2 linked regions of the Homo sapiens genome follow. The protein of the gene in region 1 interacts with the protein of each later gene in a pairwise test. Each region holds a gene or a part of one and is shown in the gene's direction. Other genes may lie near its edges.

What was found.
Region 2: the proteins of KIF22 (region 1) and SVIL interact in a two-hybrid assay, tested with the Homo sapiens proteins (one study listed by BioGRID).

What each region holds. Positions count from the first base shown.
Region 1 is NC_000016.10:29,797,073-29,800,888, forward strand, and holds part of KIF22 (kinesin-like protein KIF22), read left to right. Parts: coding exon 1-16; intron 17-1,301; coding exon 1,302-1,429; intron 1,430-1,520; coding exon 1,521-1,675; intron 1,676-1,902; coding exon 1,903-2,112; intron 2,113-2,191; coding exon 2,192-2,422; intron 2,423-2,555; coding exon 2,556-2,709; intron 2,710-2,840; coding exon 2,841-2,976; intron 2,977-3,101; coding exon of another isoform or gene 3,102-3,150; exon of another isoform or gene 3,151-3,730; intron 3,731-3,816. UniProt on the Homo sapiens protein: Kinesin family member that is involved in spindle formation and the movements of chromosomes during mitosis and meiosis. Binds to microtubules and to DNA. Plays a role in congression of laterally attached chromosomes in NDC80-depleted cells.
Region 2 is NC_000010.11:29,519,970-29,523,785, reverse strand, and holds part of SVIL (supervillin), read left to right. Parts: coding exon 1-335; intron 336-1,150; coding exon 1,151-1,376; intron 1,377-3,816.

The sequences.
Region 1 (3,816 bases):
AGACTCTCAAATACCAGTAAGGTTCAGGCCACTCCTCTTCCCTCATGCCATCACCTCCCTCTCCTAGGCCTGCCCACGTTCCCCTGCCTCCCCAGGATCCTTGCTCCCTCCTTAGCACCGCTTTGTTCCCTGAGCCTTCACTGTTCACTTAGGAAATGTTGACAGGTGCCCCCATGATGGGCCCTCTCTGGGATACTGTAGGGAGAGATGAGAGGTTGAATCAAACATACATTACTGTGCACAGAGAGGGAGGAGCAATGAGGGTGAGCAGGTGAGCCCCAAGTAGAGGCTGGGGGACATATCAGGAGGGTTGGCGGAACACAGACCTGCCAGCCAGCCTACCCAAGCTGCAGCTGGGTAGTGTCAGAGAAGACCACCCAGATTTGGGGACAGAACTCAGAAGGGCAGCTACTTTATAATCCTACTGGGGATTTAAAGTTCAAACTCCTTGGCCTGTTTTTCTAGGCGGGGGCTGGCAAACCATGGCCTGCAGGTCAAATCTGATCAGGAGTAAGATTTTCAGTAAATAAAATTTTATCGTTTATTTACATATTGTCTATAGCTGCTTTCTGACTACAGTGGCAGAGTTGAGTAGTTGTAAAAGGAACACATGGCCCACAAAGCCTAAAATATGTACAATCTGCCTTTTTACAGAAGTTTGCTAGCTCCCATACTAGGCCGTTAACAATTTGGGCTTCAGTTTCTTTCCAGCCTCATTCCCTCAATATATATTAAACTCCCTGCTGTGGCCTAAGCTGCACTTCTCCACCAGAACGCAGTGGATAGGTGATTGGTATGTAGAGTCTAGTTCAGTCATAAGCAGCATCCTCTATTTTCCCCATTATGGTGTAAAATACAATGTTCTACACATGTAGCCATTTGAAAAAGACTGGGAAGCCTTGCTTTTTTGCTATTCTTGATTCTCAGAATTTCTTTCTTTGGTCAAAATCTTCCTTCCTTGAGCAGAATCAGTTACTCCTTTGAGAGTGTGTTCTTATCTTCGTTTCCTAAATCACAGCAAAGTGTGGATATCTATCCTACCAGACTGAAAAACTCCAAGAGCAGGGATATCAGATCTATCTCTGTATTCCTAACACCAATAGAGAGATGAGGATGGAGTAGGTGTTAGGTGGATGCTTTTTAAGGTCTTTGTACAAGAAAGGGGATAGAGACGTTCTCTTAAATCCAAGGTCCAGATGAGAGTAGAATCCCTTACCCACCCCCACCCCACTCCACCCCTTACACACACACACACACACACACACACACACACACGCTAATTTCTTTCTTTCTTCCTGCAGGTTTGATGCCTTCTATGGGGAGAGGAGTACTCAGCAGGACATCTATGCAGGTTCAGTGCAGCCCATCCTAAGGCACTTGCTGGAAGGGCAGAATGCCAGTGTGCTTGCCTATGGACCCACAGGAGCTGGTGAGGGAGCCAGAAAAGAAACAGCTATGGGTCAGAAAGGGCTGGGGAAACGGAGAGGAAAACCTCACAGTTTTCTCCACTCTCTTCCCAGGGAAGACGCACACAATGCTGGGCAGCCCAGAGCAACCTGGGGTGATCCCGCGGGCTCTCATGGACCTCCTGCAGCTCACAAGGGAGGAGGGTGCCGAGGGCCGGCCATGGGCCCTTTCTGTCACCATGTCTTACCTAGAGATCTACCAGGAGAAGGTGAGGCCCCGTGCTGGTTGGGAGAGGAGCAACAAAGGGTCAAAGTAAGACCTGGTTCTAGAACATGAAGCTCTGCTGTAGCAGGGAGGTAAGGTGAGACCTAGAAAGACAGAGACTGGGGTAGCAGATGGTACAACTCCGAGAATAGAACAGAGAAAGGAAACTGATCCCCAGGAAGAAACAGCCTCTCTATGGAGAATTGCCCTTCCCCTTCACTGCTTACACAGGTATTAGACCTCCTGGACCCTGCTTCGGGAGACCTGGTAATCCGAGAAGACTGCCGGGGGAATATCCTGATTCCGGGTCTCTCCCAGAAGCCCATCAGTAGCTTTGCTGATTTTGAGCGGCACTTCCTGCCAGCCAGTCGAAATCGGACTGTAGGAGCCACCCGGCTCAACCAGCGCTCCTCCCGCAGTCATGCTGTGCTCCTGGTCAAGGTGAGGCCGCAGACAGGGGCGAGGACCTGGGAAGCCCAGGAGCCTGAGCTAAGCACGAGACCTTTGTTCTTACCCCCAGGTGGACCAGCGGGAACGTTTGGCCCCATTTCGCCAGCGAGAGGGAAAACTCTACCTGATTGACTTGGCTGGGTCAGAGGACAACCGGCGCACAGGCAACAAGGGCCTTCGGCTAAAAGAGAGTGGAGCCATCAACACCTCCCTGTTTGTCCTGGGCAAAGTGGTAGATGCGCTGAATCAGGGCCTCCCTCGTGTACCTTATCGGGACAGCAAGCTCACTCGCCTATTGCAGGTCAGGCCCACCTGTCTCAGGGAAGAAGGGGCTGCAGAAGGAGGTTCTCAGGCCTGCTGTGGGGTGGGGAATAGCAGTTGAGGCATAGGAAGGCTGGGCTTCTGACCCACCCACTGCCTGGTCTCACCCTCAGGACTCTCTGGGTGGCTCAGCCCACAGTATCCTTATTGCCAACATTGCCCCTGAGAGACGCTTCTACCTAGACACAGTCTCCGCACTCAACTTTGCTGCCAGGTCCAAGGAGGTGATCAATCGGCCTTTTACCAATGAGAGCCTGCAGCCTCATGGTGAGAACTGGGGGAGGCAGGAGTGGAAACGCTGGGTCTGGAAATTAGGGAGTTTGTTGAAACCACCAAGCATCAGCACAGAGGCTGACCACCCCCAATCCCTCTCTCCACCCCATCCTCCAATCATCTAGCCTTGGGACCTGTTAAGCTGTCTCAGAAAGAATTGCTTGGTCCACCAGAGGCAAAGAGAGCCCGAGGCCCTGAGGAAGAGGAGATCGGGAGCCCTGAGCCCATGGCAGCTCCAGCCTCTGCCTCCCAGAAACTCAGGTGAGCAGTGGGGCCTTGGGTGTATCCCCTTCCTGATGTATGGCTTAGCAGCAGAGCTGCAATGCCCGTCAGATCCTTGAGCAGAGAGCTGTGATCTTGTTCCTCTCCCATTAAATTCACCCTAGGCCGGATGCGGTGGCTCACTCCTGTAACCCCAGCACTTTGGGAGACTGAGGTTGGGTGGATCACCTGAGGTCAGGAGTTCGAGACCAGCCTGGCCAACATGGTGAAACCTCATCTCTACTAAAAAATACAAAAAGTAGCCGGATGTGGTGGCATGTGCCTGTAATCCCAGCTACTTGGGAGGCTGAGGCAGGAGAATCCCTTGAACCCAGGAAGCAGAGGTTGCAGTGAGCTGAGATTGTGGCCATTGCACTCCAGCCTGGGCGACACAGCAAGACTCCGTCTCAAAGTAAATAAGTGAATTCAACCCTGGCTAGGCACGGTGGCTCACGCCTGTAATCCCAGCACTTTGGGAGGCCAAGACGGGTGGATCACCTGAGGTCAGGAGTTCAAGACCAGCCTGGCCAACATGGTGAAACCCCATCTCTACTAAAAATACAAAAATTAGCCAGGCATGGTAGTGGGCACCTGTAATCCCAGCTACTCAGGAGGCTGAGGCAGGAAGAATTGCTTGAATCTGGGAGGTGAAAGTTGCAGTGAGCCAAGATCATGCCACTGCACTCCAGCCTAGGTGACAGAGCAAGACTGCATCTCAATAAATAAATAAGTAAATAAATAAATTCCCCCCAAATTCTACTCCATTGAATCACTAAAGTCTAAGATTAATCTCTCCTCAGTGCTGCTGCCTTGGGGACCTAAGGAGGCCTCCTCCTGGGG
Region 2 (3,816 bases), on another chromosome or scaffold:
GTTGAGAGAATATGGAGAGACAGAAAGCAAGAGAGCTTTGACAGGTCGAGACAGTGGGATGGAGAAGTATGGGTCCTTTGAGGAAGCAGAAGCATCCTACCCCATCCTGAACCGAGCCAGGGAAGGAGACAGCCATAAGGAATCTAAATATGCTGTTCCCAGAAGAGGAAGCCTGGAACGGGCGAACCCTCCCATCACCCACCTCGGGGATGAACCGAAGGAATTTTCCATGGCTAAAATGAATGCACAAGGAAACTTGGACTTGAGGGACAGGCTGCCCTTTGAAGAGAAGGTGGAGGTGGAGAATGTTATGAAAAGGAAGTTTTCACTAAGAGGTAAGTGACCAGTGCCCCTAAAGCTTTAGAAAGCCACTGGGTTTTAGTTTCTGCTTGATTTGTCCTGTGTCTATGATGGCTTTTAACAAAGTTCTATAGGCAGTTTACAGCTAGTATTGGTTAAAAGTTCAGCGGGAATCCTATTCTTCCCTGGATCTGACTAGAGGATACATCAAGTTTTCAGCAATAAAACTACTGGAAGAGCTTTCACACATCTTCATGGAGTTTCTGTTGACTTTGGTCACTCACACAATGGCCTTCTGAGCTGCTTAGTTCTGGTGGCCCCTTTTAGAAATTGATGACCCCAAAGGTCCAGGCTGGGTAAGCACAAGGAATTCAGGAAAGACTTGACCCCAGTCTCTGAATCGCTAGAGTGCTTCTTCCTGCATGCCTGTTTTGCAGGCTAGCAAGCTACACTGCGTGGGCCCTTCATCCTCTTTCTACGTTTGTATGAAACAGTACAGTGTAAGTTATAATAGGGGTTTGCGTTTGTGAGTATAGCACATTTGAATGTTAAGGTATTATTTTGGAGAATAGAACCATTCTGGAGTAAATAGTTAAAGCTGACTTCCTGTGTCTCGCACACAGGAGAGAAACCAATTGCCACGAAGCATTTTGCTGTGTGGGTAACCCTCCAGGAAGTTTGGTTTTCTCACAGAGTGTAGCGTGCTGCAGATTTGCATAAATCCCAGTGGATTGGGTCACCCGCCGTGTGCCCACGGATTGAACCCTGAGAGCTGCACTGTTGAGGGCGAATCGCTGGAAGAATGTTTGCCTGAGGAGTTCAGTGCTGATGTTGCTCTTTTCCTTCCCAGCGGCAGAGTTCGGGGAGCCCACTTCCGAGCAGACGGGGACAGCTGCTGGGAAAACTATTGCTCAAACCACAGCCCCCGTGTCCTGGAAGCCCCAGGATTCTTCGGAACAGCCACAGGAGAAGCTCTGCAAGAATCCATGTGCGATGTTTGCTGCTGGAGAGATCAAAACGCCGACAGGGGAGGGCCTTCTTGACTCACCCAGCAAAACCATGTCTATTAAAGAAAGGTAATGAGATTCGGTGAGCGAAAAGTAATTCTCTCGGGGAGGAGCTTACAGCTTGCTTTTAGAAAACAATCTCGGTGATGGGCAAAGAGATGAAATCATACATTCAGCTTCTAACAGGACTGTGCTGTTGTCCTGGAGTAATTCTAGGAAGCTGAGGTGTTTGAGAGTGAACTGCCTTTGCTCATGAGCCTGGTTTGGTAATGAGCCTGGTTTGGACAGGGCTGGTTCCAGACTCAGATGAGAAAACAAACAGAAACAGACTTCTGTTTTATTTATTTGTTTCCACTGTCCCAATATCTTTTATAATATTAAATTCTTGGACTATCTAATGACAGGAGCTGAAATCTTGGCTCTTCCCCTTTTAGATACACAGGGTTCATACTGAATGCACAAACCACTTGTGACTTTGTGTAAAATATGTGTAGAGGGAGTGAAGATAAATTTACATAGAGGGCATATATCTTTGGACTTAGAATCCAAGTTTTGTTTCTTTTACAGATTGTAAAATGGATGACTTTTCTGAACTGCATTTAGAAATTGTATGTCAGGTAATAGCTTGAAAGATTGCATTTCAGCATCAAATAACACAGTAGCCTAATTTCTTTCAAAAGAATGACGTAGGGTGCAGAGGAATATATTTAAATTAGACAGATACAGAGAACTGGAAGTAAATTACCTTGGGGATGTGTTTTCCTTGTTAACCCTTAACCACAGATGAATTAAGCAGCAAAAGATGCAATAGTGGGAATAAATTCAGAGTTTGATAGCAGAGTAGGGTGACTAAATAAAAACGTATTGTACTGAGGTGATGGACATTCTAAATAGAGGCTTGATCACTATGCATTTTATATGTGTAACAAAATTTCTCATGCACCACATAAATTTGTACAAAAAAAGGAGAAAGTATTCAGTAGGAAAAAAACATGATGGAATAGTTGATAGGAAAACTGGGTGAAGAAAAATCTTGTCAACTCCATATTAGGAGAACCATTTCCATCGCCTGTTCCCACAGTTCTGCCAACCTCCACCCTTCCTCAGCACCTCCCACCACACGGAAGTCTGCAGGCTTCACTGACCACTCTTATTTTTCTAGATACATTTCAAACTGCCTAAGACTATACTAAACCACAATGAAAAGTCTTCTTTCTTTCTTTTCCTTCTTTCCTTTTTTTTTTTTTTTTCTTTTTGAGACTAAGTCTTGCTTTGTCACCCAGGCTGGAGTGCAATGGGATGATCTTGGCTTACTGCAACCTCTGCCTCCCGGGTTCAAGCGATTCTCCTGCCTCAGCCTCCCAAGTGGCTGGGACTACAGACGCACACCACCACACCCAGCTAATTTTTTGTATTTTTAGTAGAGTTGGGGCTTCACCGTGTTAGCTAGGATGATCTCGATCTCCTGACCTCCTGATCCGCCTGCCTCGGCCTCCCAAAGTGCTGGGATTACAGGCGTGAGCCACCGTGCCTGGCCCCTTCTTTCTTTTTTTTTTTTTTTAGAGGAATGGTCTTCCTCTGTTGCCCAGACTAGAGTGCAATGGTGCTGTCACAGCTTCACTGCAGCCTCGAACTCCTGGACACAAGTGATCCTCCTGCCTCGGCCTCCCCAGTAGCTGGGACTGCAGACACGTACCACCATGCCTGGCTAATTTTTTCAAAAAGATTTTTTGTAGAGTTGGGAGGTCTCACCATGTTGCCCAGGCTGGTCTCGAACTCCTGGCCTCAAACAGTCCTCCCACCTCAGCCTTCCAAAGTGCGGGGATTACAGACATGCACCACCACACCTGGCCCTTCTTTCTAGTTTTAAGCCAAGCTTCTTGAACATTATTTGTAAAATAATAGATGCTATCTTTTTCAACTGACAAATTAATCACATTGTTAAATCTGACTTACTTTCTCCTTTACTTACTTAAAATTCATGATAAGTTAGACCTGGCAGGCTGAGGGGCATAGGGAAGGGGCAGAGGGGACAGTGCAATGAGGAGAGGGATGTCTTCAATCGGGGAAGCAGTTGGGCCTATTGAGGCTTGAAGTTCTCTTCCACGAAAATGGGGCTCAAAGAGAGTTTCATCCCAGAAACCCAAATATTGACAACTGGTTAGGTGAGGAAGAAGAGAGATCATTTAAGGAAATTAACAATAAATATCACTTATACACAAGTTCTGATGTTTTACACATGAGAAAATATCCCTGGGGTATTCCCCAGTGGGAAATACTAATATTATGCCCCCTTCTTTCAAAGGCTTTTAAAGGAGCCTTCCCATCTTTGGGAATATTCTGTCCATCTGGACTTAGGACTTTTGATGAAGAAGTCCTGTGTCTATCCACTAAGCAATAATTCCTGATTTACTTACCTGTTTTTTGGTAAATTTTAGTTGACCTGTATTTTTCTGAAAGCTTTAATCCTACTGTAAAATTCTCATTTTTAAAAGTGAGATACTGGAAA